Regions from separate parts of the Homo sapiens genome. Here all the other regions are linked to region 1. Evidence: fine-mapped expression QTL. A gene starts in region 1. Each other region holds a variant in brackets. All regions are shown on one strand. Distances are between the middles of the regions.

Region 1 (8,177 bases):
GCCAGTCCGAGTCCCAAAGCTGAAGAACTTGGAGTCTGATGTTGGAGGGCAGGAAACATCCAGCACAGAAGAAAGATGTAGACTGGGAGGCTAGGCCAGTCTAGCCCCACTTATTTTTTTTTTTTTTTTTGGTGAGGTGAGTCTCTGTCACCCAGGTTGGAGTACAGCGGTGTGATCTCGGCTCACCGCAACCTCTGCTTCCTGGGTTCAAGCTATTCTCCTGCCTCAGCCTCCTGAGTAGCTGGCATTATAGGCATGCACCACAACACCCAGCTAAATTTTTTTGTATTTTTAGCAGAGATGAGTTTTGCCATATTGGCCAGGCTGGTCTTGAACTCCTGACTTCAAGTGATCCACCCGTCTCGGCCTCCCAAAGTGCTGGGATTACAGGCGTGAGCCACGGCACCAGGCCTAGTCTAGTCTTTTCACGTTTTTCTGCCTGCTTTATATTCTGGCCGCACTGGCAGCTGATTAGTTGGTGCCCACCCAGATTGAGGATGGGTCCGCCCTTCCCAGTCCCACTGACTCAAATGTTCACCTCCTTTGGTAACGCCCTCACAGACACACCCAGGATCAATACTTTGCATCCTTCAATCCAATCAAGTTGACACTCATTATTAACCATCACAAGGTGTGAGCCCTGCACCCAGCAATATATTGCTTTTTATATATTTATAGAAATTCAATTGGTTCTGTTTCTCTGGAAAATCCTGATCAATATACACTCCTTCATTTTTCTTATAGCACTGAATTATGGGATAAACCAGGTTGGTTGTCCTGTAGAATGTCCCACACTGTGATTTGACTGATGTTTCCCCATGATTTTAACTTCTATCTCCTGTGTTTCCCAATCAACCCACTTGGGTTTTTGTTTTTTCTTTTTGTTTTTAGATAGGGTGTCACTGTGCTGCCTAGGTTGGAGTGCAGTGGTACAGTCACAGCTCACTATAGCGTCGACTTCCCAGGCTCAGATGATCCACCCATCTCAGCCTCCTTAGTAGCTGGATCCACAGGTGCACACCACCACACCTAGCTAATTTTTAATTTTTTTAGAGATGGCAGAGGTGGGGGGGGTTGCGGGGGGGTCTCACTATGTTGCCCAGGCTGGTCTTGAACTCCTGGGCTCAAGCGATCCCCCTGCCTTGGCCTCCCAAAGTGCTGGGATTACAGGTATAAGCCACCGCACCTGGCCCCAAACAACCCACTTTTTTTATTCTCTCAGTTTTTGCCCTTATTTAATCCCCCACTCTTACTTCAGCCTCGTTAGGAACTTGAGTCTCTGGACCCCTCTACTTTTTCTCTGCCAATAAGCCCTTTCATAATGTTCGTCATCACTCCAACCACTCTACTTTTTAAAAATGGACTTTGTTGAGGAATAACATGCATACAATAAAATGCTTGTATTTAAAATGTACTTTTCAGCGGATTTTAATAAATACATACATCTGTGTAACTACCGCCACCATCAAGTCGCTCTCTTCTTCACAGCCCCCACTCTGTCTCCTCTCATCATGCTTTCCCAACCTACATCAATCCCTCAGACTCCCCCTCTCCTGGCACGCCTGGCTGCAGACCTGCAGGAGAGAACACACACGCCGACCTGCTGGAAACCTGTACATCAGTACTGCCCTCCCGAGGACCCTCGGTCTTTGTCCAGGCAGCAGTGCTCGCCCATGCTCCACAGCAGCTTTTTCTTTTTCTTTTTTTCTTGAGATGGAGTCTCGCTCTTGTTGCCCAGGCTGGAGTGCAGTGGCACAATCTCAGCTCACTGCAACCTCTGCCTCCTGAATTCAAGCGATTCTCGTGCCTCAGCCTCCCGAGTAGCTGGGACTGGAGGCGCCCACCACCACACCCAGCTCATGTTTTTGTATTTTTAGTGGAGACGGGGTTTCACCACATTGGCCAGGCTGGTCTCCAATTCCTGAGCTCAAGTGATCCACCCGCTTCAGTCTCCCAAAGTGCTGGGATTACAGGCCTGAGCCACTGTGCCCGGCCAGTAAGTTTCTTTTTTTCTTTTGAGACAGGATCTCCCTCTGTTGCCCAGGCTGGAGTGCAGTGGCATGATCTTGGTTCACTGCCACCTCAAATGTCTGTCTTTACCACTGTGTAGTAACAAATTTGGCCAGGAGTGGTGGCACATACCTGTAACTCCAGCACTTTGGGAGATCAAAGCGGGAGGATCACATGAGCCCAGGAGTTTGAGACCAGCTTGGGCAACATAGTGAGACCCTATCTCTACCAAAAAAATAAAAAAAAATTAGCCAGGCACGGTGGCATGCACCTGTCATCTCAGCTACTCAGGAGGCTGGGGCAGGAGGATTGCTTGACTCCAGAAGGTCGAGGCTGCAGTGAACTATCATCATGCCCCTGAGCCCCTAAATCCCAAATGATAGGAGTGTCCATCTTATTCATTGTGGGCTTCTCAGACCACTCCTGATGGTTTATGCTAATGAGATGACTTGGGATGGGCCCCTATATAGTTCATGTTAACAAGATGACTGAGGATGGGAACTGGCCATGCTGGAAACCAACGACCGAACACGACACTTGAGCTTTGTGGCTTTGAGCCCCACCTCTGGATGGGTCAGGGAGACTGGTGATTGAGAAAACAATCTCACTAGAAGAGTGAGAGATAGAATAGCCAGCACACTGCGGCCTCGATCTGAACCAGCTCAGGTCTTTCCAAACACTAGTGACATGTGGCTATCTAAATTTAATTAAAGCCAGGCGCAGTGGCACATGCCTGTAATCCTAGCACTTTGGGAGGCCGAGGTGGGCAGATCACCTGAGGTCAGGAGTTTGAGACCAGCCTGGCTAACATGGTGAAACTCATCTCTACGAATAATACAAAAAGTGGCTGACTGTGGTGGTGCATGCCCGTAGTCCTAGCTACTCAGGAAGCTGAGGCACAAGAATTGCTTAAACCCAGGAGATGGAGATTGCAGTGAGCCAAGATCCTGCCACTGCACTCCAGCCTGGGCGACACAGTGAAACCCCGCCTCAAAAAATAAATTTTTAAAAAATTAATTTAATTACAATTAAAACTTCACTTCCTCAGTCCACTGGCCACTTTTTTTTTTTTAATTTCCATTTTTTTTCTTTTATTGAGTCCACCACTGCGGCCTTGAATTCCTGGGCTCAAGCGATCTTTTTGCCTCAGATCCTGAGTAGCTGGGACACAGGCGCCTGCCACCACGCCTGGCTGCTGGCCACATTTCCAGTGCTCAATAGCTACTTGAAGCTTGTGGCTACCTTACTTGGGCAGCACAGATAGGGAAAGTTCTATTGGACAGGGCTGCCTACCTAGCCCTTTTTTAAAACGTCCTTTTATACTATTTTGTCAGATGGGGTCTCACTTTGTTGCTCAGGCTTTTCTCAAACTCTTGGGCTCAAGTGATCCTCCTGCCTCAGCCTCCCAAAGTAATTTGTAAATACGTGTAAATAATATAGTCCTCTCTTGTTGCATCAAAATGAATGCAAAAATGTCACGATGGGGCCGGGCGCGGTGGCTCATGCCTGTAATCCCAGCACTTCGGGAGGCCGAGGCGGTAGGATCACCTGAGGTCGGGAGTTGGAAACCAGTTTTCTGGTGCCTCCTTAACTTTTGCACTGGAGGGACAACGGAAGGGCCCTGTGTCATCCTCACCTCCCCCATCTGTGATTCTTCTGATGGTTAATTACCACTTTAAAGCTCTAGTTCTTTTTCCTTCACCTACTGAGAGTATATCTCCTTCTTTACAGTAACTTTTACTTTATAGAGTTTTTTTTGAGACGGAGTCTCACTTCGTCACCCAGGCGGGAGTGCAGTGGCACGATCTCGACCCACTGCAACCTCCGCCTTCCGGGTTCAAGCGATTCTCCTGCCTCAGCCTCCCGAGTAGCTGGGACTTACAGGCGCCCGCCATCACGCCCAGCTAATTTTTCAGTACAGACGGGGCTTCACCAGGTTGGCCAGGCTGGTCTCGAACTCCTGACCTCAGGTGATCCACCCACCTCGGCCTCCCATATTGCTGGGATTACAGGCGTGAGCCACCGCGCCTGGTCCCGTTTTGGCTATTCTTTAATATGCTTCCCTATAACTGCTATCTCCACACCAGCCTTGCCTTAGCTCATGGGAAACAAAACCAATTAGTTCCCCCATTACCTGCCTTGAGGAGCAGGGGTGGTGCAGTGGCATGCACCCAGGGAAGTGTGTTGTATGGGCCCCCAAGTGCAGAATCTGAATCTTGCAAAGGAAGAAACAAATTCGTCTCCACGGAGCATGTCTCCCCAGGACTCTCAGCCTTCCAAATCCGCAGTCACAGTGACTCAGCAGAATCTGAGCCTAGGGCACCACAGTAATCCGCATCCGGCTCTTTTTCTGCTCCATTTCGTGCCAAGGCTAAAAGGGCATGCCCACTTGATCCCTGGACTCTCTTGGGACGACTTCCACCCTGCATCCTCTTGCACCTCAGGGCACAGTGCGCAGATGGGCTTGCCTTAGCACCCCCAGCCAGATTTTTGAGGCCTCTGTCACACACACCCCTACAATCCCCTCCCCCAGCCCCGAGAGACTTTTCTTGACTTCCACCAGTTGCTCCGGCGGGTGAGAGTGGAGAGGCCCCTCCTTCATCCCCCAGGCTCCCTCCCTTCCTGGAGCTGCAGCCTCAGCATCCTCCGCCCAGCACCCCAGGATTCAGGCGTTGGGTCCCGCCCTTGTAGGCTGTCCACCTCAAACGGGCCGGACAGGATATATAAGAGAGAATGCACCGTGCACTACACACGCGACTCCCACAAGGTTGCAGCCGGAGCCGCCCAGCTCACCGAGAGCCTAGTTCCGGCCAGGGTCGCCCCGGCAACCACGAGCCCAGCCAATCAGCGCCCCGGACTGCACCAGAGCCATGGTCGGTGAGTGCTGCAAAGGGCGGGGTGCTTGGCGGTCGTCTCTCGAGCACTGGTGCCTGTGGAGGAGGTTGTAGGGGCTTGGCCCTGAATTTTGTTCCTTGACTCAAAACCCACAAAGGGAAGAGATTAGGGACCTGGGATGAGCCTTGATCGGACTCCGGGAGAAGGAGAGCTTCTGTTTGTATCCGGTGTCGCGGATCCTTCCTCACTCCACCCCACGAACTCTAGTGGGCATTTAGGAGAAACTTGACCTTGGAAGCAGAAATTCCCTCCAAAACTGTGGTCAGAAACTGGCCGTCAGAGGCCAAATCAGGCTTACGGTCACAGCCCATACCTCTTTTGGTCTATAGTATCTAAAACACTTTGAAATAAGTTGCTAACATTAAAATGGGTGATTTCACTTAAAAATGTGGATTCCGAGCTTCTGAAGAAAATGAGAATATCTGGCGATTGGTGGACAGGAGTGGAGGAAACTGATGCCTTTGGTTTGACGGAGACCAGAACCGGCTCCAGGCTGCCAGGCACAGGTTTTGTTTTGTTTTGTTTTGTTTTGTTTTGTTTGAGACGGAGTTTTGCTCTTGTCGCCCAGGCTGTAGTGCAATGGCGCTATCTCAGCTCAGCGAAACTTCCGCCTCCCGGGTTCAAGCGATTCTCCCATCTCAGCCTCCCGAGTAGCTGGGATTACAGGAGTGCGCCATCATGCGCGGCTAATTTTTATATTTTTAGTACAGACGGGTTTCGCCAAGTTGGCCAGCGCGGTCTTGAACTCCTGACCTCAGGTGATCCACCCACCTCAGCCTCCCCAAGTGCTGAGATTACTGACGTGAGCCACCGTGCCTGGCCTTGGGAGGCATTTTCCATTGAGGCCCTTGGATTAGGCAAACCTGATCAGATCGTACTGGATCCGTTTCTAGTATTGGGTCCACTTCAGTGATAGAGCCTTCCCACTCGGCCATCGACCCTAGGGGAACTCAGAGGTCACCCCAGCTCCACCCAAGGCATAAATAACCAGCTGAGACAACTGCAGGGATTGAGAGCTGTTTCCCAAATAATCTCACTCTGAGATTGGACAGTACTAAGATTTAGAAAGCTGTTGCCTCATCTGGGGCAGAATCCTGTGTTTTGTAATTTCCTTCCCTGTGGACCTGGTCCTGCCTCTAAAAATGCGCCTGTACACAAAGAAGCCCATCTTGGTCAAAGTGAGTGGAGGAACAGACTGCCCTTGCAGTTGACAAACTGAAATTATCAGGATCTCTGAGAAAGGGACTAAGCTGGGGATTGGTAGCCCAGCATGAGTTACTGGCAGAGACAGCAGGGAATAGATTCTGACAGCTGAGAGGCTTGCCGCATACACGGTGGTTGCTGTTTCCCTTGTATTTCATTCTTCAGCGTCGAGGCACTGGCACCCTCTCCTCCAATACTAGGGCAGGAACTATTTCCTGACTTTTCAATCTTACAGAATGTTCTGTATTTACGTGTAGCTTAAACACAAAAAAGGGCGGTGGTAATGAGGTGAAAAGGGAAGACTTGGATCTTGTATAATTAGTTTTAGCTGTACCCAGCTAACCAAATCTTGAGGTTAACTAAAGCATCCAGGTTTTTTGTTTGCAACTAATAGATGCATCTGATTTGCACTCATGTTCCCTGGAGCACTCAAGTGAGAAGAGAAGGCAGAAGGAGAATGCATGAAACTGATACAAAGGCTTATCTTTATCATACTTCTTTTTTTCTTTTTGAGACAGGGTCTTGCTTTGTTGCCCAGGCTGGAGTGCAGTGGCATGATCAGGGCTCACTTCAGCCTTGACCTCCTGGGCTCAAGTGATTGTCCCATCTTTGCCCCCGAGTAGCTGGGACTACAGGTGTGTGCCACCACACCCAGCTAATTTTTTTTGGTCAGAGCAGAAGAACTTGAAACCCAGCTAATTAAAAAAAAAAAAAATTTTGGCTGGGAGTGGTGGCTCATTCCTGTAATCCCAGCACTTTTGGGAGGCTGAGGCGGGAGGACTGCTTGAGGCCAGGAGTTCAAGACCAAGATTCAGCTCAAATGGCAAGCTCCTCTGAGGGCCTTTCCGAATGGGCCAGCCCTGAGGTCCTGAAGTTTTCCTCTGTTGAACTTTTTGAGATGGAGTCTCACTCACTCTGTTGCCCAGGCTGTAGTGCAGTGGCGTGATCTTGGCTCATTGCAATCTCCACTTCCCAGGTTCAAACGATTCTTGTGCTGCAGCCTCCCAAGTAGCTGGGATTACAGGCGCCCACCACCACGCCCAGCTAATTGTGTATTTTTAGTAGAGACGGGGTTTCACCATGTTGGCCAGGCTGGTCTCTAGCTCCTGACCTCAAGTAATCCACCCGCCTCGGTCTCCCAAAGTGCTACGATTACAGGCATGAGCCACCACACCCAGCCTTCTGTTGAACTTTGTCCCTTACCTCTCCTAACACACTAATGCCATTGTACCCTGAAGAGGTTATCCGTGTGTGCATCTTGTGGCCTCTCTCAGGGTAAACTCTAATAGTCTAACTCCTCCCAGGTCATGTTGCTCAGCTAGTTAAGTGGCAGGAAGGGAAAATGAACCCTCCAGGGCCCAGAAAACTTTTAAATTGCCTATTCACAAGCATCTTTTTGTTTGTTTGTTTGAGACAGAGGCTTGCTCTGTTGCGCAGGCTGGAGTGCAATGGTGCGATCTCGGCTCATTGCAACCTCCGCCTCCTGGATTCAAGCAATTCTCCTGCCTCAGCCTCCCGATTAGCTGGGATTACAGGCACCTGCCACTACACCTGGTTAATTTTTTTTTGTATTTTTAGTAGAGACGGGGTTTCACCATGTTAACCAGGCTGGTCTCTAACTCCTGACATGAGGTGATCTGCCCGCCTCAGCCTCCCAAAGTGCTGAGATTACAGGTGTGAGCCACCGCGACCCACCCACAACCTTCTTTTGATCATTTTTCTTTTGAGTTGTTTTGGGGATCTACCTATTCCAGGTACTGCACTTTGATGGTTATATTTGTTGCAAATATATTATTCCTGCTTGTGTGTTGCCTTACATGAAAAATTGTAAAGTCACAGGCCTGCTTATAGCTATTAGAGTCTGAGCTCCTTGAAAGAGCAAGAGATGGATATCCTGATTTGCTCATTTTCTGAGAAGTGCCTTGACTGTCTTACTACTTAGAAAATGCTTGTTAACATTGATGAGAAGTCAATAAAATAAAAACTGTTGGCTGGGCGCTGTGGCTCACGCCTGTAATCCCAGCAGTTTGGGAGGCCGAGACAGGCGGATCACGAGGTCAGGAAATCGA
Region 2 (8,177 bases), 950 kb before region 1:
GGGAGACACGATGCCTCTCATTGGGCTCAGCCCAGATCCCCTGCCAGGCCCCTGGGAAACCCCGAGGGGACAGGACCTGCCACTTCCTGCTCCATTTCCCCTGAGGGAGGATGTGAGCCCCCTGTAGCCTGTAGGGTGGATGTCCTGATGTCAGGGAGGGAGGGCTTGGCAAAGGCGCCCGTTCCCAGGGACAGGCTTTCCTCATGCTGATGGCTCTGTCCTTGGTCCTCTGCCCTCCGAGAGGACCCAGAGCCTCCCTCTCCATGGGGCAGGGCTGCTGTCTTAGAAACTGCCCCAAGTCTGGATGGAGCATGCAGGGAGCCCGGCCCAGGTCAAGCCCTGCAACCACCCCACAAGAAGCTCACTTTCTCTCCCATTTGCCCGGCAGAGCTCCTACCCTATCTGGGAGGACTTCAACTCCAAGGCCACGAAGCTGCATTCCCAGCTGAGGTGAGGTGGCCCAGGGCACCCCAGCAGGGGAGGGGCAGGCAGAGGCCCCCCCCCCGCCCAACCACCGACCATCCATGCCGTTGTCCCTCTCCCCAGGACCACCGTGCTGGCTGCTGTGGCCTTCCTGGATGCCTTCCAGAAAGTGGCTGACATGGCTACCAACACCCGAGGTGGGGAGGCGCGTGGCTGGAGGTTGGGGTTGCCCCAGGGTGGGCCTGGAGGCTGGAAAGGAAGAGTAGGGGATGGGCCAGGGAAAGGACGGGACGCCAAGCCCAGAACCTTGAGTTCTGCTCCTTAGTGGAGTGGGCTGGTTGTGGAGAGAGTGAGCCCCTCGTCACAAGAGGCATGCAAGCAGGAGTGGGTAAGTAGTGACAGGAGTGTTCCCCGGGGATTCCCTTTTTGCTGTGGGCTGTTCATGTGACCCCCCAGCACAGAGATTCTCCTTAGGGCTTCTTCCCACTCATGCCCTCGTGTCCTTCTAAGAGCACGCAGGGTCAGGTGAGCGCGCCGTTGGGCTTGGCGCCGCCTCTGCCCTCTGGTCCGAGTGGCAGAGACCTGGGGCTCCCGCTCCTTCGGGCCCTGGGCGTGCTCACACTCCCGCACCTGCATCTGGGCACACCTGGAGGGTCGTTTGGCCGGCTCCTGGAACGGTCTTTGGCGCCGGCCTCTCCCAGCTGGGAGAGAGGGGAGGCCGCCGCAGGAGGCTGGCGCGGCTGGGATGGCGGAGGAAGAGCTGGTGGAGATGGAGGAGGCCCCGAATCCCCCAGGGCCGGCGGGACTGCGGCTCGGCGGGGGCAGGGCGCGGGCTGCGGGCTCCGCCTGCGCGGCCGGGGCGCCCCCTCCTGGCCCGAGGCCGGGACTGCGCAGGCCCCAGCGGGCCCCTTCCCACCCCGCGCTTGCCTCGCCAGGGGCCACGAGGGACATCGGCTCGGCGCTCACACGCATGTGCATGCGCCACCGCAGCATCGAGACCAAGCTGCGGCAGTTCACCAAGTGAGTGGGCGCTGCGGGCGGGCAGGGGGGCGGGGGGACGGGGCGTCGCGGGGGAGCCCGGCCCTGACCTGCGCTCCCGCCCGCCCTCCGCAGCGCACTGCTGGAGAGCCTCATCAACCCGCTGCAGGAGCGCATCGAGGACTGGAAGAAGGCGGCCAACCAGCTGGACAAGGACCACGCGAAAGGTGAGGGTGGCGCGGAGCCGGGCTTCCCACCCCCCACTCCGCAGGGACCCCATTAGAGCGCTCCGCTCTCCCCTTCTGCAGAGTACAAACGAGCCCGGCATGAGATCAAAAAGAAGTCGTCGGACACGCTGAAGCTGCAGAAGAAGGCGCGCAAAGGTAGTGCCTGGCGCGGCCCCCCAGCCACAGCCCCACGGCCCCGCTCCACAGCCCCACCGCCCCGTGGGGCGCCCCAAAGCCTTCATCCCAGCCAGAGGGGCGCTGTCCCCGACACAGGACCCTCCAACCTGTTGGGTGGGACAGAGGGAGCTGCCCTTCCCCCCAAACCTGGTCCAGAACCTCCCTATGGGAGGCAGCAGGAGGCCCAGGCACCCCCGCCCCAGGAGTGGCTCTGTCCATCCGGCGTCTTTCACACATTCTTTCTTTCTCTGTCTCTCCTCCTCTCCTCCCACATCCTTCCTGTAGAGCTACTTGGTAAGTCAAATGTCGGTCCCTCCAGCTGCTCCTCCCGTCCTTGTCGCATTTGTCTGTCTCCCCCAGCTCAGGGCCATTGGAAGGAACCTCTCCAGGCCAAGGAGAAGCGAGGAAGGCGGTCGGTCCACGAGGGAGGGGCCTGGGGCACAGTCCCCCTGGGGCCCCCGGGGTCCCTGGCCAGGGATGAGTCCCGGGCCACTGCTGGGTCAGTCTGCCAGGCCAGGAGGGGTTGGCCAGGGCGGGATGGGGGCCACAGGCCCTGGCTGCCCCGCCCCCACCAGGCTGGCCTGCGTCCTTACTTGTCACCTCCTCACCTGCCATCTCATCATCTCCTCTGCATCATCCTCTCGCCTCTCTCTTTCTTGCTGCTTCTTGTGTCGCTGTTGCTGTGTGCTCTGCTCCCTGAGCTGAGTGGGGACCCACACTGAGACCCCTTCCCTGCCTCCAAGGCCCAGCCCTAGCTCTCCTGGCCCCCGCCCCCTGTGGCCTGGCCTACAGCTGAGCCCCACACTCTCTCTTGTCCCGCTTCTGCCCCACCTCCCTGGACCTTGTGAGGTGAGGGGCGCCATCCCGGGTCAGTGAGGGTACCCCAGGTGGAGGCCAGCGAGTCTCCGTGTTGGCAGAGCTCCTGGGCGCCAAGAGCCTCCCCCGGAGATGCCCCAATCCAGCGTGGCTTTGCAGCTTTGGCCTCTTTCTTGTGTGTGTGTCTGTCCTCTCTGCCTGCTTTGGTGGGACTAGCCCTTCCACAAGCCCCAGAGTCCTCACTGCCCTCCGCAGTCCCCTGGCCCCAGGGCAACACCCAGCCCAACGGCCGAGAGATGCCACCACCAGGGTCTGAGCCCATTTGTGGGTGTGGCAAGCCAGGCTGGCATCCCCAGCAAGGCCTCTCCTCCCCACCCCTCCAGGGAAAGGAGACCTGCAGCCCCAGCTGGACAGTGCCCTGCAGGACGTCAACGACATGTACCTGCTGCTGGAGGAGACGGAGAAGCAGGCCGTGCGCCGGGCGCTGATCGAGGAGCGGGGCCGCTTCTGCACCTTCATCACCTTCCTGCAGCCTGTGGTGGTGGGACTCCTGGGGACTCAGACCCCAGAGGGGTGGGCTGGGCCCAGGGTTGACCTTCTGACCTCCAAGAAGGGTCACTTCTCAGCAGTCCCTGGCTGGGGGCATCAAGGCCACATGCTCCTGGCCCAAAGGCAGGTCTCATAGCTCACCATGCACTGATTTGGTCTGGAGAGACCATCATGCCAGCCCTCTGGGCTGTGTGGGCCCCACCTGCACCAGCCCCGAGCAGCATTGGTTAGCGAGGAGGGGTGAGAGAGGAGAGGCCCGACAAGGGCTGCTGCTTCTCCAGGGGCGCTGGGCAGGCGGGCAGGTGGGCGATAGGGCCAGCAGGTCTGACTCGCTGCTTCCTCAGAATGGAGAGCTGACCATGCTGGGAGAGATCACCCACCTGCAGGGCATCATCGACGACTTGGTGGTGCTGACAGCAGAACCCCACAAACTGCCTCCCGCCAGCGAGCAGGTGCGGGAGCCCTCTGGCCAAGGGCCAGGGCCAGGGGCAGGGAGGAGATGGGCTGCCCTAGGTTGGGAACAGTAAAGGGGAAAAGAGGATGGCATTTGGGGGAGGCAGCTAGGGGCATAAGACCAGACCCCTTCTGACACCCACTGCAGGCCATCCCGGAGCACCTGCCCAG[G/A]TCGGGGAGGGTATGCCCTGGCCAGCAGCGTTCTCAGACTCAGAGTAGATGGGTGAAGTCCTGGATCCATGGAGTCAGGCCCAGAGTCTGCCTGCCCTGCTCCATGTGGGCAGACCTCCTGCCGAACCTGGAGACGCCCCACCTCCCTTCATGGCCAGAAACCCCATCCCCTCCCCTAGACCCAGGCGTACCTGGCCACCCCACCCCAGCCCTGCTGCCACTGCACTCAGACCAGTCCTGTCCCACAGCCTGCGGGCAGCACGCTCCAGAGGCACTTGTTGCATGCCCAGCATCTGCCACGTTATCTCAGGGAATCTTCCACTCTAAGACAGGAACAGGAGTAAACAAACTCAGGGAGGCGCAGGAGCAACCTGCACCCCATGGTGTCAGGGTCACTCTCGCCCAGCCCAGGCTGGGCTCGGAATCTCTACTCAGTGCATGTTAGCTGAAGGGGCTCCGAGAAGGCTGTGTCCTCTGGTGTCTCCCTGCTCCCCACATTAGGAGGAGCCTGGGGGAGGGGGCTTCAGATTTCTGGGTCTTCTCCTGGGATGTGGTTCACAATTAGAGAGTGGGGGGGGGCCTCTGGCCCTACTAGCTCTGAGGAGCTGCCTCCAGTGACCCCCATCCATGTCCCTGTCCAGGTAATCAAAGACCTAAAGGGCTCGGACTACAGCTGGTCCTACCAGACCCCACCCTCATCACCCAGCAGCTCCAGCTCCCGGAAGTCCAGCATGTGCAGGTCAGTGGGGGTGGGGTTCCCAGGGGTGTGGGGGGCGGTATCCCAAGAGGAAGTGGGGATGTTCCCAGCAAAATTGCATCAGAAATTGCTTCAGGGCCTCAAAATTCACAACTTTTACACCATCCGAGGAATTTGCATATGTAGAGGGAAAATGTGCCCTGTCATCCCAAGACTGCTACTGGCACAGGCATTTGTTGGCAGAATAGGAAGCAGGGGCAGTAGCAGCTTCATTTATGGAGCATCCACTATGTGCCAGGTGCTGTGCTAAGTGCTTTATGCATTTTTTCTCATTGAATCCTAACACTGCTGTATCAGGAATGGTGTCATCTCCATTTTACAGAAGGGGAAACTGACACATGAAGTCCCAGCATTTAACCACTGGACTCTGCCAGGCCTAGCACCGTGTGGGGTCATAGTAAGAGTCAAAGATCAGGGAGAGATGGGAAGGCTTCTAGAAACAAGTGTTGGGGCCATAAGGTATAGGACACTCCAGCCTGGCTGGCTCCTAAGAGCTGGTTCCCATGGAGGCAGCTGCCGCATTTGGAGCCTTGGCCCAGGCTAGCCCCGGGAGCCTCACACAGCTGGGGAGAGGCCAAGGATCTCGCAGTCACTAGCCAGGCTCAGGATCAGGGGCCTTTCCTTGGCTGGGCACTGGGGCTGGGTTTGGAGGAGACATTGATGGTTCAAGCTTCCTTGGGTGGGGAGGACAGTAAGCACAGAGTGAAGTGCTGGTGGGGGCCCCCCTTTGCCAGGCACCCCTCTCCCCAGAATCACTGGCTGGACATCCAGAGCTTGGGAGAAGCCAGGCACAGCAATCAGCTACTACCTCAGAGAGAGGCTCTTCAGACCCTGCGTGGGTGGCCGTCCCACAGTGAAGGGGCTGATTGCAGGGGACAGCCATGAGCAGGGGCAGAGGCTGGGAGGCTTCAGGGTCACGCTTAGCCAGGAACACCACCCAAGGGTTGAATTGCTGTGCTGAGGGTGTGAGCCATAGAGGGCTGGACACCCTTGAGGGATTGGAGAGAGTGAGGGTGATGGTGGGTGCAGGACCCACTTGGAAGGTGACCTCTGTACGCACACACACCATCACCATATGCTAGACATCCAGTTAGGACTGGATGGCAAATACCAGATTTTGAGAAGGTGGTTTAGGAATGATTGGACTCACCGGGGGCAGTCGTTCACGCCTGTAATCCCAGCAGTTCGGGAGGCCGAGGCAGGCGGATCACGAGGTCAGGAGATTGAGACCATCCTGGTAAAAACGGTGAAACCCCGTCTTTACTAAAAAATACAAAAAAATTAGCCGGGCATGGTGGTGTGTGCCTGTAGTCCCAGCTACTCGGGAGGCTGAGGCCTCAGTGATAAAGATATATTCTTTAGGATATAGGAATCTAGATTAAGATCTTTGGTGAAACCAATAGGTTTTTTGGTGGGTTTTTTGGGTTTTGTTGTCATTGTGAGACAGGGTCTCGCTCTGTCACCCAGGCTGGAGTGCAGTGGCACAATCATGGCTCACTGTGGCCTCGACCTCCCGGGTTCAAGCGATTCTCCTGCCTCAGCTTCCCAAGTAGCTGGGAATACAGGTGTGCACCACCACGCCTGGCTAATTTTCATATATTTTGTAGAGACAGGGTCTCACCCTATTGCCCAGGCTGGTCTCAAATTCCTGGACTCAAGCAATCCACCCACCTCAGACTCCCAAAGTGCTGGGACAGGTGTGAGCCACCACGCCCAGACAGGACAACTGTTTCTTGTTTCTTTTTTTTTTTTTCAAGACAGAGCCTTGCTCTCCTAGGCTGGAGTGCAGTGGCATAATCTTGGCTCACTGCAACCTCCGCCTCCCAGGTTCAAGTGATTCTCGTGCCTCAGCCTGCCAAGTAGCTGAGATTACAGGCATGCGCCACCATGCCCAGCTAACTTTTGCATTTTTAGTGGTGATGGGGTTTCGCTATGTTCTCCAGGCTGGTCTTGAACTCCTGTCCTCAAATGATCCACCCGCCTTGGTCTCCCAAAGTTCTGGGATTACAGACATGAGCCACTGTGCCCAGCCTGGACAACTGTTCTTAGTGGCAGAATAGGAGGCAGAGAGGTTGCCTCACCCTGGGCATTCCCTGACCACGGCTCCCCTCAGCACTGGGGCTGGGGGTACCCTGCTCTGGCCCTCCCCTTCCACACCGTCCCAGAACACAGCTCCTGTGTAGCACCTGGGTCTCAGGACCTCCTAGTCTGACATTGTCTTTTCCTTCCTTTGCCCCTCACCTCTTTCCCCACCCTCGTTTGTCAACCTCCCCCAAACACACACCCCTCTGTCTCCCTGTCTGGCTGCTGTGCCCTCTTCCTTCACTCCCCTAGTGCCCCCAGCAGCAGTAGCAGTGCCAAGGGTGGCGGAGCCCCATGGCCTGGGGGTGCCCAAACATACTCACCCAGTTCCACCTGTCGCTACCGCAGCCTGGCGCAGCCAGCCACCACCACCGCTCGCCTCTCCAGCGTTTCCTCCCATGACTCTGGCTTCGTCTCCCAGGACGCCACCTACTCCAAGCCCCCCTCGCCTATGCCTTCAGACATCACCAGCCAGGTGAGGGGGCGTTAGGAGGATCAGTCAGGGTGGGGTGCAGCAGCCTTATGCCAGCATCAGGCAAGCCACATGCGGGACTACTATAGCTGTTGAGACTACTATAGCTGTTGAGACTGGCCTGAAGGCCCCCAAGGCCTTTATTCTGTTCAGTATTTATATTATTATTTTCTATCTCTGCTTTTAAATTCACATATCTTTATATCTTAAATGAGTCTCTTGTAAGCAGCATAATGCCTAGATTTTCTTTTTTTATCCAATCTGACAACCTCTATCTTTTAATTGCCATTTTTAGCCCCTTTGTATTTACTGACATATTTGGACTTCTGGCTTTCTTCTTTCTATTTGTCCTGAATTCTTGTCTCTACCCTTGACTTTGTTTTTTCTTTTCTCTTATTCCCCGTCTGCTGGATTGTAAGTTATATTCTGTCTCTTTTCTTTTATAGGTTACCTTGAAATCTTACCATATGCATACTTAACACAACCCCACCTCCTGAGTAATTCAAGGCCCTTAATATATATTTTTTTACTTGTCACCCACTCCTTCTCAAACTTACAAGCTATATTATTTTCTCTTTTTTTTTACAGTACCCACAAATGACATTTTTCTTCTTAATTTCTTTATTTTATACATACAGTACTTATTTAGATTTACCCATATGTTAATACACATTTCTTGTCATTTTTTTCTTGCATCTCAAATCCTCCAAAGCTTATTTTCTTTCTTTCTGAAGTAAAAAACATCTTTTAGAAGTTCTTTTAGAATAGATCTGTAGTTGTAAACTCTCAGTTTTTGTTTGTTTGTCTGTAAACATGTTTTATTTTGTCCTCTTCTTGAAAGTTCGTTTTGCCAGGAACACTATTCTGGGGTGACAGTTGTCTTCCATCCACACTGTGAAGGTATTTTTCCGCTGTGTTCTGGCTTCCACCATTGGTTGGAAGGTCAGCTGTCAGTCACTGATGCTTCTTTCTGAGGAATCTGAGTCTCTCTCTGGGCACTTTTAGGCCTTCTCTTTAGTTTTGCTACAGCGTGTCTACAATGTGGATTTATTTTTATTTAACCTCTCCTTGT
Region 3 (8,177 bases), 65 kb before region 1:
TCACAGGGGCAAACAATTGATACTCTGCCGTGTACCCCTTCACCAGATGATCTTGCCTAGCTGCGGGATATCGAAGTGTCCTGAGCACATTTAAGGTAGGCTAGGCTAAGCTATGATGCTCGGCAGATTAGGAGTATCAGATGCATTTTCAACTTGCGATATGTTCAACTTATGATGGGTTTTTCAGGACGTAACCCCACTGTAAGTTGAGAAGTATCTGCGCTCATACACATACACACTTTTTCCTGAAACTCTGAGAGTAAGCTCTAGACATTGTGCCCCTTTACTCCTAAATATTTCTGGGTGTATTTCCCAACAAACACATTTTTTAACATAACCAATAGCACAATTATCAAAATCAGGACATTTAACTTTTTATAATACTAATATTTAATTTACAGACTTTATTCGTATTTTGCCAATTGTCCTATCGATGCCCATCATCGCAAAAAAAAAAAGAAAGAAAAAAAAATTTGTTCTGGTCCAGGCCCCAATCTAGGATCATACTGGCATTTAGTACTCTTATTTTGAAGCAGGGCATGGTGGCTCACGCCTGTAATCCCAGCTCTTTGGGAGGCCGAGGCAGGCAGATCACTTGAGGCCAGGAGTTTGAGACCAGCCTGGGCAACATGGCTAAACCCTGTCTCTACCAAAAATACAAAAACTAGCTGGGCGTGGTGGGGCACAACAGTAGTCCCAGCTACTCAGGAGGCTGAGGCATGAGAACTGTTTGAACCCAGGAGGCGGAGGCTACAGTGAGCTGAGACCACACTCCAGCCTGGGTGATGGAGAGAGACTCTCACAAAAAAAAAAAAAAAAAAAAAAAAAACCTCCTATTTTTAAGTTTCCAATCTATAGAAAAATTGAAATAGAACAATAAATACTGTATACTCTTCACCAATTGTTATCATTTTGCCACATTTGCTTTCTGTTCTATGTGTCTATAGCATCACTACCCAAGAGAACTTCCATGATGACGAAAATGTTCCACATCTGTGCTGCCCAATACATTGCCATGAGACACATGTGGCTATTGACACTTGAAATATGGCTAGTGCAAATAAGGATATGATTTTTAAATGTTATATAATTGTAATTTAAGTGTAAACAGTTCTATGTGGCTACAGTGACTATTCTATTGGACACCAAAGGTTATAGATAAATGCCATCTATGTCTCTGTGTATGTGTGTGTGTGTGTGTGTGTGTGTGTGTGTGTGTATCCGCATTTTTTTTCCTAGGTAAAACCATTAAAAAGTAAGTTGTAGACCGGCTGGAGTGCAGTGGCACGATCACGGCTCACTGCAGCCTCGACCTACCTGGCTGAAGCGATCCTCCCACCTCAGCTTCCTGAGTAGCTGGGACTACCAGTGCGCAACACCACGCCTGGCTAACTTTTTAATTTTTTTTGTAGAGACGGGATTTCACCCCATTGGCCAGGCTGATCTCGAACTCCTGGGCTCAAGGAATCCACCTGGACTCAAGCGATCTACCCGCCAGAGCTTTCCAAAATGCTGGGATTACAAACATGAGCTACTGCCCAGTCCCCAGACATATTTTTAAAGCCATTTTTCCCCCAATTCAGTACCTAATCAATATATACAAATTGCCTGTGGCTACTATCTCCTTAATCTTTTAAAATCTAGAACATCCTCCCTTCTTTTCCATGGCAATGATTTTTGTTTGTTTAACTTTTTGGTTTTTTTCTTTTATAATCCCAGCAGCTTTGCCAAGGCAACAATGATTTTTAAAGACTTCCACCAGCTGTTTTAAAGAATGCAGCAAATTCTACATTTTTCTAATTGTGAAACTGCCTTTGCAAAATTATGACAGAGAAATCGGACATAGTTGATTCCATCTTACTTCTGATTTCTAGGCTGTCCTTGGTCATTCCTGGGCATGGGCCAAGCTAATTTTGGGAGAAATTTAGTTTATAGTTTCTTTTTTTTTTTGAGACCGGGTCTCCCTCTGCTGCCCAGGCTGGAGTGCAGTGGTGCAATCTCATCTCGCTGCAGCCTCCACCTCTGGGGCTCAAGCGATCTTCCCACCTCAGCCTCTCAAGTAGCTGGGACTACAGGTGTGAGCCACCATGCCTGGCTCATATTTGTATTTTTTGTAGAGACAGGGTTTCCATGTTGCCCAGGCTGGTCTCAAACTTTAAGCCTGAGCTCAAAGTCATCCACCCGCCTCAGCCTCCTAAAGTACTGGGATTACAGGCATGAGCCACCACACCCAGCCTATAGTTTAATCTTAAAGCAAGGATAGCTGGGCATGGTGGCTTATGCCTGTAATCCCAGCACTTTGGGAGGCTAAGGGAGGTAGATCACTTGAGACCAGGAGTTTGAAACCAGCCTGGCCAACTTGGTGAAACCCCGTCTCTACTACAAGTACAAAACTTAGCCGGGCGTGGTGGCGCACGCCTGTAGTTCCAGCTATTCAGGAGGCTAAGACACGAGAATCGCTTGAACCCAGGAGGCAGAAAGTGCAGTAAGCTGAGATTGTCCAACGCACTCCAGCCTGGGTAACAGAGCAAGACCCTGTCTCAAAAAAAAAAAAAAAAAAAAAAAAAGCAAGGATAATAACAGCCCTTCCCAAAACGAAACCACCTTTGTAAAACTAATCAACAGCCACAAGGTTAGGATTATGGGAGGGGCTTGAATTCTAATAAGAGGTAGGTATAGTTTCTATAATCCCTTACTGCTCAGGAGTCATGAAGCCAGAGGTCACAAGATTTGTGACTTCCCCAATTGCTCCCATAGATAACATCGCTATTGCAGAACCTAAGGTTGGTCTTTTGAGATTTTTTCTTTCTGGCAATCTACTGACTTTGCCTGGGCCCGTGACTTGACTCGTGAAACAAATTATCCTGTGGCCCCACCCAGAAGTGGACTCAGCACAGGACCATTTTCCACACCTCTATAATCTCATCCCCAACCAATAAGCAGCACCCATTCCCTAGTCCCCTACCTGTCAAATTGTCTATAAAAACCCTAATCTCTGAGCCTCCAGGAAGACTGATCTGAGTGATAACTCTGTCTCCCATATGGCCTGTTTTGTGTCAATTAAACTCTTTCTCTAATGCAATGCTACAGTCCCAGTGAATTTATTTATTTATTATTATTATTTTTTTAGATGGAGTCTTGCTCTGTCACCCAGGCTGGAGTGCAGTGGTGCAATCTTGACTCACTGCAACCTCTGCCTCCCAGGTTCAAGCAATTCTCTGCCTCAGCCTCCCAAGTATCTGGGATTACAGGCGCCTGCCATCACACCCAGCTAATTTTTTTGTATTTTTAGTAGAGACAGGATTTCACCATCTTGGCGAGGCTGGTCTTGAACTCCTGACCTCATGATCCCACCTAGGCCTCCCAAAGTGCTCGGATTACAGGCATGAGCCACCGCGCCCAGCAGTGAATTTATTTTATCTGTGCAGTGGGCAAGAAGAACCCACTGGGTGATTACAATTGTTTCCTCATGATTAGATTCGGTTTAAAGGCCAGGCACAGTGGCTCACCCTGTAATTGCAACACTTTAGGAGGCCGAGGCAGAAGGGCCACCTGAGCCCAGGAGTTCGAGACAAGCCTGGGCACCACAGCAAGACCCCAAATCTACAAAAAATAAAATATTAGCCAGGTGTAGTGGCTCACACCTGTAGTTCCAGTTACTCGAGAGGCTGAGATAGGAGGATCCCTGGAGCCCAGGAGGTCGAGGCTGTAGTGAGCTGTAATTGTGCCACTGCACTCTAGCCTAGGTGACAGAGTGAGACCCTGACTCAAAAGAAAGAAGAATACTACATAAGTTATGTCGTGTACCTCTTACCACATACATTAGGTTGTCCTGCCATTGGGGATACTAAGTTTGAACATCTGCTTAATGTGGAGTTGGCCAGGTCTCTCCACTGACACATTTGTAACCTACAGTTAATCAGCAGGGTGATATTTTGAATATTTCTTGTTCTTAAAAGACAGGCTAAAATAAAGATATGAGCAAGTTTATCTAGAAAGTCTCTTTCATGAAATATATCTTTATACACAGAGTCACGACTTTATGTGAGATTTAGCTTTTAAAGTCAACAAATCAGGCAAAAATCATATAAAGACAAAATTATACACTGAAAAAGCTCTTAAGAAGGGACCACAATAGAGTCTGGCATCTGCTCTCTCAATAAGTTCCAAACAGCTTGTTTCTTGTTTTATTATACTATG[C/T]TTTTCAGAGATCAGTTTTTCAGTGTTTCTCTAGTAAAATATCAAATAAAATAGCTGTCCTACGTTTAAGGGCCTCGATGCATTTAAAAATATACCTTAAAACACCAGGATCACACTGTGGGCAGGCACAAGGGAACTGGAAACCGCGCAGTCACACCCCACAGGTTACACTATCAGCTTTCTTCATGAAATGCACGGGAAAAAGAACCACCTACGCTATTTAAATGGTTATTTCTCTCTTTCTCTTTCCCCCCACCATTTTCCTGAATGGTATTACCAAATCTGTGTAGGTTAAATATGTGTATAATGAGATACACCAGTATTATCAAGCTGGCTCTTTCCACCCTGGTAAGAAAATTCACCTTCAAGAAAGGCAACAAAAAAGCCTTTAGAAGTATGTGCTGGACAGGTGCAGAGGCTCACATCTATAATCCCAGCACCTTAAGAGGCCGAGGTGGGGGCCAGGCACGGTGGCTCACACCTGTAATCCCAGCACTTTAAGAGGCCAAGGTGGGAGAACTGCTTGAGTCCAGGAGTTTGAAACCAGCCTGGACAGCACAGCAAGACCTATCTCTATAAAAAAAATTTAAGAATTAGCTAAGTATGGTAGTGTATGCCTAAAGTCCTAGCTACTCAGGAGGCTGAGGCAGGAGGATTGCTTGAGCCTATTTTGAGGCTGCAGTGAGCTGTAATCATGCCACTACATTCCAGCCTGAGCAACAGAGAAAGACTGTCTCAAAAAAAGAAAAGAGGCCAGGTGCAGTGGCTTACGCCTGTAATCCCAGCACTTTGGCAGGCCGAGGTGGGTGGATCACCTGAGGTCAGGAGTTTGAGACCAGCCTGACCAATACGGTGAAACCCTGTCTCTACTAAAAATACGAAAATTAGCCGGGTGTGGTGGCAGGTGCCTGTAATCCCAGCTTCTTTGGAGGCTGAGGCAGGAGAATTGCTTGAACTTGGGAGGCAGAGGTTGCAGTGAACCAAGATCACGCCACTGCACTCCAGCCTCGGCGATAGAGCGAGACTCCGTCTCAAAAAAAAAAAAAGAAAGAAAAAAAGAAAAGAAGTAAGTGTGCGTGGCTGAATAACATGGCCCCAAAACAGAGACCTCAGGATGTTACCAGGTCCAATAGGCCAACTTCTGCTTTGACCTAGACTTGCTAATTATTAGCTAAGGTAATAAAGTCTGTAGCCCCCAGTTTAAAACCATATTAGTTCACTCTAACTCATCTCCCTACTCAAAAGGGCAGAAGCAAGGCAAAAGACTCCAAGAAATATAATTAAAATATTTCAAGACTACAAAAACAATCAATAATGTAATAAGAAACAGGCAAAGAACATGAACAGGCAATCCATAGGAAAGGAAATACAACCGCCCTTAAATATATAAGATGCTAAACACTGGCCGGGTGCAGTAGTTCACACCTGTAATCCCAGCACTTTGGGGGGCTGAGGCAGGCGGATCACTTGAGGTCAGAAGTTCGAGACCAGCCTGGCCAACATAGCAAAACCCCATCTCTACTAAAAATACAAAAATTAGCCAGGTGTGGTGGCACATGCCTGTAAACCCAGCTCCTTGGGAGGCTGAGGCATGAGAATCGCTTGAACCCAGGAGACAGAGGTCGCAGTGAGCCAAGATCACACCACTGCACCCCCGCCTGGGTGACAGAGTGAGACTCTGTCTCAAAAACAAACAAAAAAAAAGATGCTAAACATCATACAGTTGACCTTTAAACAAGAGAGGTTTGAACTACAAGGGTCCACTTTTACATGGATTTTCTCCTGCCTTTGCCACCCAAGAGATAGCAAAACCAATCCTTCCTCTTCCTCCTCCTCCTCAGCTACTCAACATGAAAATGATGAGGATGAAGACCTTTATGATGACCCACTTCCACTGAATAAATAGTAAAATTTTTTTCCTCCTTATGATTTTTTCTCTAGCTTATTTTATTGTAAAAATACAGTATATAATACATGTAACATACAAAATACGTGTTAATCAACTGTTTCTCTTTTTTTGTTGTTTTCTTTGAGATAGAATTTCGTTCTTGTTGCCCAGGCTGGAGTGCAATGGTGTGGTCTCGGCTCACAGCAACCTCGGCCTCCCGGGTTGAGGCGGTTCCCCTGCCTCAGCCTCCCAAGTAGCTGGGATTACATGCGCCTGCCACCACGCCTGGCTAATTTTTTTGTGTATTTTTAGTAGAGGCAGGGTTTTACCACATTGGCCAGGCTGGTCTCGAACTCCTGACCTCAGGGAATCTGTCTGCCTCAGCCTCTCAAAGTGCTGGGATTACAGGCGTGAGCCACCGCACCCAGCCAATCAACTGTTTCTGTTATTGGCAAGGCTTTCAGTCAACAGCAGGCTATTAGTAAAGTTTTGGGGGAGTCAAAAGTTACATGTGGATTTTTTTACTGAGCAGGGAATCAGCACCCCTGACCCTCATGCTGTTCAAGGATCAAATGCGTAAGTAAAGAAGTGGGAAATAAAACTACACTGAGAACACAAGCTTGCACCAATGAAACAGGCAAAAGTTAAAAGTCTGACAACATTGTGCTGGTAAAGATGTAGGGAAACAGGCACTCTCGCACATTGCTAGAAGGGTATTCCTTCCAAGGAAGGCAATCTGGCTCTCAAAATTACAAAAATGCATCCCTTTTGGTGTATCTTGGAAGAGACACACAAGAAACAATACTGGTTTTTTCCAAGGAGGAGCACTGAAGGACTGCAGGAAAGAATTTTGAACTATAGGAGGCTGGGCACGGTGGCTCACGCCCGTAATCCCAGCACTTTGGGAGGCCGAGGCGGGGAGATCATGAGGTCATGAGTTTGAAGCCAGCCTGCCCAATATGGTGAAACCCCATCTCTACTAAATATACAAAAAGTAGCCAGGCGCGGTGGCACACGCCTGTAGTCCCAGCTACTGAGGAGGCTGAGGCAGAAGAATTGCTTGAACCCGGGAGGCGGAGGTTACAGTGAGTCGAGATCGCACCACTGCACTCCAGCCTGAGCAACAGAGCGAGACTCCATCTCAAAAAAACAAACAAACAAAAAAGTTAGCCAGGCCTGGTGGCACACACTGGTAATCCCAGCTACTTGGAAGGCTGAGACAGGAGAACTGTTTTAACCTGGGAGGAAGAAATTGCAGTGAGCCGAGACAGCGCCACTGCAGTCCAGCCTGGGCGACAGAGCGAGACTCTGTCGCAAAATATAATAATAATAAAATTAAAAACTAAGATTTTTAAACTCCATGAGTATATTATATAAATAACATTTGCATTTCAAAAATACTCAAGAAAAATATTCCCAAGAGACACAATTTTGCCTCTGGAGGACCAGGCTGAGGGGTCTGAGCTCAGATACTGAGAGCCACTCTCCCATCTGTGATGGCTGCAGAGCTATGGAACCCGAAGCAATATTCTTTCGTTCAGGCACTATTTACTGAGGGCCCACTATGTGTCAGGCACTGTTCTACTGGCTGGGGTAGTTAACAGTGACCAAAGCGACAAAAATCTCTTACTGTGGATCTTACACTCTATTGAAGGAGACAGTCAACAAATGAAATAAATTAATTAAACAGGGACAAGGGCTGATAAGAAAAATATAAAGAAGAGAGGGAAATAGATGTGATGAAGTCAATGAGAAAGGTGGCGTTGGATCAGGGGATCAGGAAGAGGGTGGCTTTTGAGAAAACGCCTAAGGAAATAATGAAGCGAAAAGCATTTCACTCAGAGGGAACAGCAAGTGCAAAGGCCCAGAGGCAGACGCCTGCCCAGTGTATTCACTGAAGAGCAAGGAGGCTGGGGCACAGAGAATGTAGACCAGGAACAGGAGATGAGAAATGTGGGGTGGGGAAGGGTCACATCACATGGGAGCTTCGGCTTCTACTGTGAAATGGAGCACCCTTGAATGGTTTGAGCAGAGGAGTGACAAGACCCAGCTTACATTTTTTTTTCTGAGACATGGTCTCGCTCTGCTC

Evidence for each region. PIP is the estimated chance that this variant, and not a neighbour inherited with it, causes the effect.
Region 2: its variant is fine-mapped to the expression of NQO1 in fibroblasts (GTEx, PIP 0.99).
Region 3: its variant is fine-mapped to the expression of NQO1 in lymphoblastoid cells (GTEx, PIP above 0.99).

The regions. Positions count from the first base shown.
Region 1 is chr16:69,723,143-69,731,319 of GRCh38, reverse strand. NQO1 (NAD(P)H quinone dehydrogenase 1) reads left to right here and starts at 4,760. Exons shown (of 6, transcript NM_000903.3): 1 at 4,760-4,887. The coding sequence starts at 4,881. NQO1-DT (NQO1 divergent transcript) reads right to left here and starts at 4,593. Exons shown (of 2, transcript NR_186363.1): 1 at 4,145-4,593. RefSeq lists enhancers at 3,291-4,284, 4,493-4,752, 3,999-5,198, 4,285-5,277.
Region 2 is chr16:70,673,237-70,681,413 of GRCh38, reverse strand. MTSS2 (MTSS I-BAR domain containing 2) reads left to right here. Exons shown (of 15, transcript NM_138383.3): 2 at 389-450; 3 at 547-620; 4 at 1,359-1,443; 5 at 1,537-1,628; 6 at 1,710-1,784; 7 at 2,091-2,099; 8 at 3,005-3,162; 9 at 3,515-3,622; 10 at 4,436-4,533; 11 at 6,886-7,108. Among named protein-coding and RNA genes, the nearest start is that of MTSS2, 8.7 kb to the left of the region's middle. The variant G/A (reference allele first, on the strand shown) is at 3,795.
Region 3 is chr16:69,788,302-69,796,478 of GRCh38, reverse strand. All of the region lies in intron 2 of WWP2 (WW domain containing E3 ubiquitin protein ligase 2), which reads right to left. Among named protein-coding and RNA genes, the nearest start is that of WWP2, 30 kb to the right of the region's middle. The variant C/T (reference allele first, on the strand shown) is at 4,201.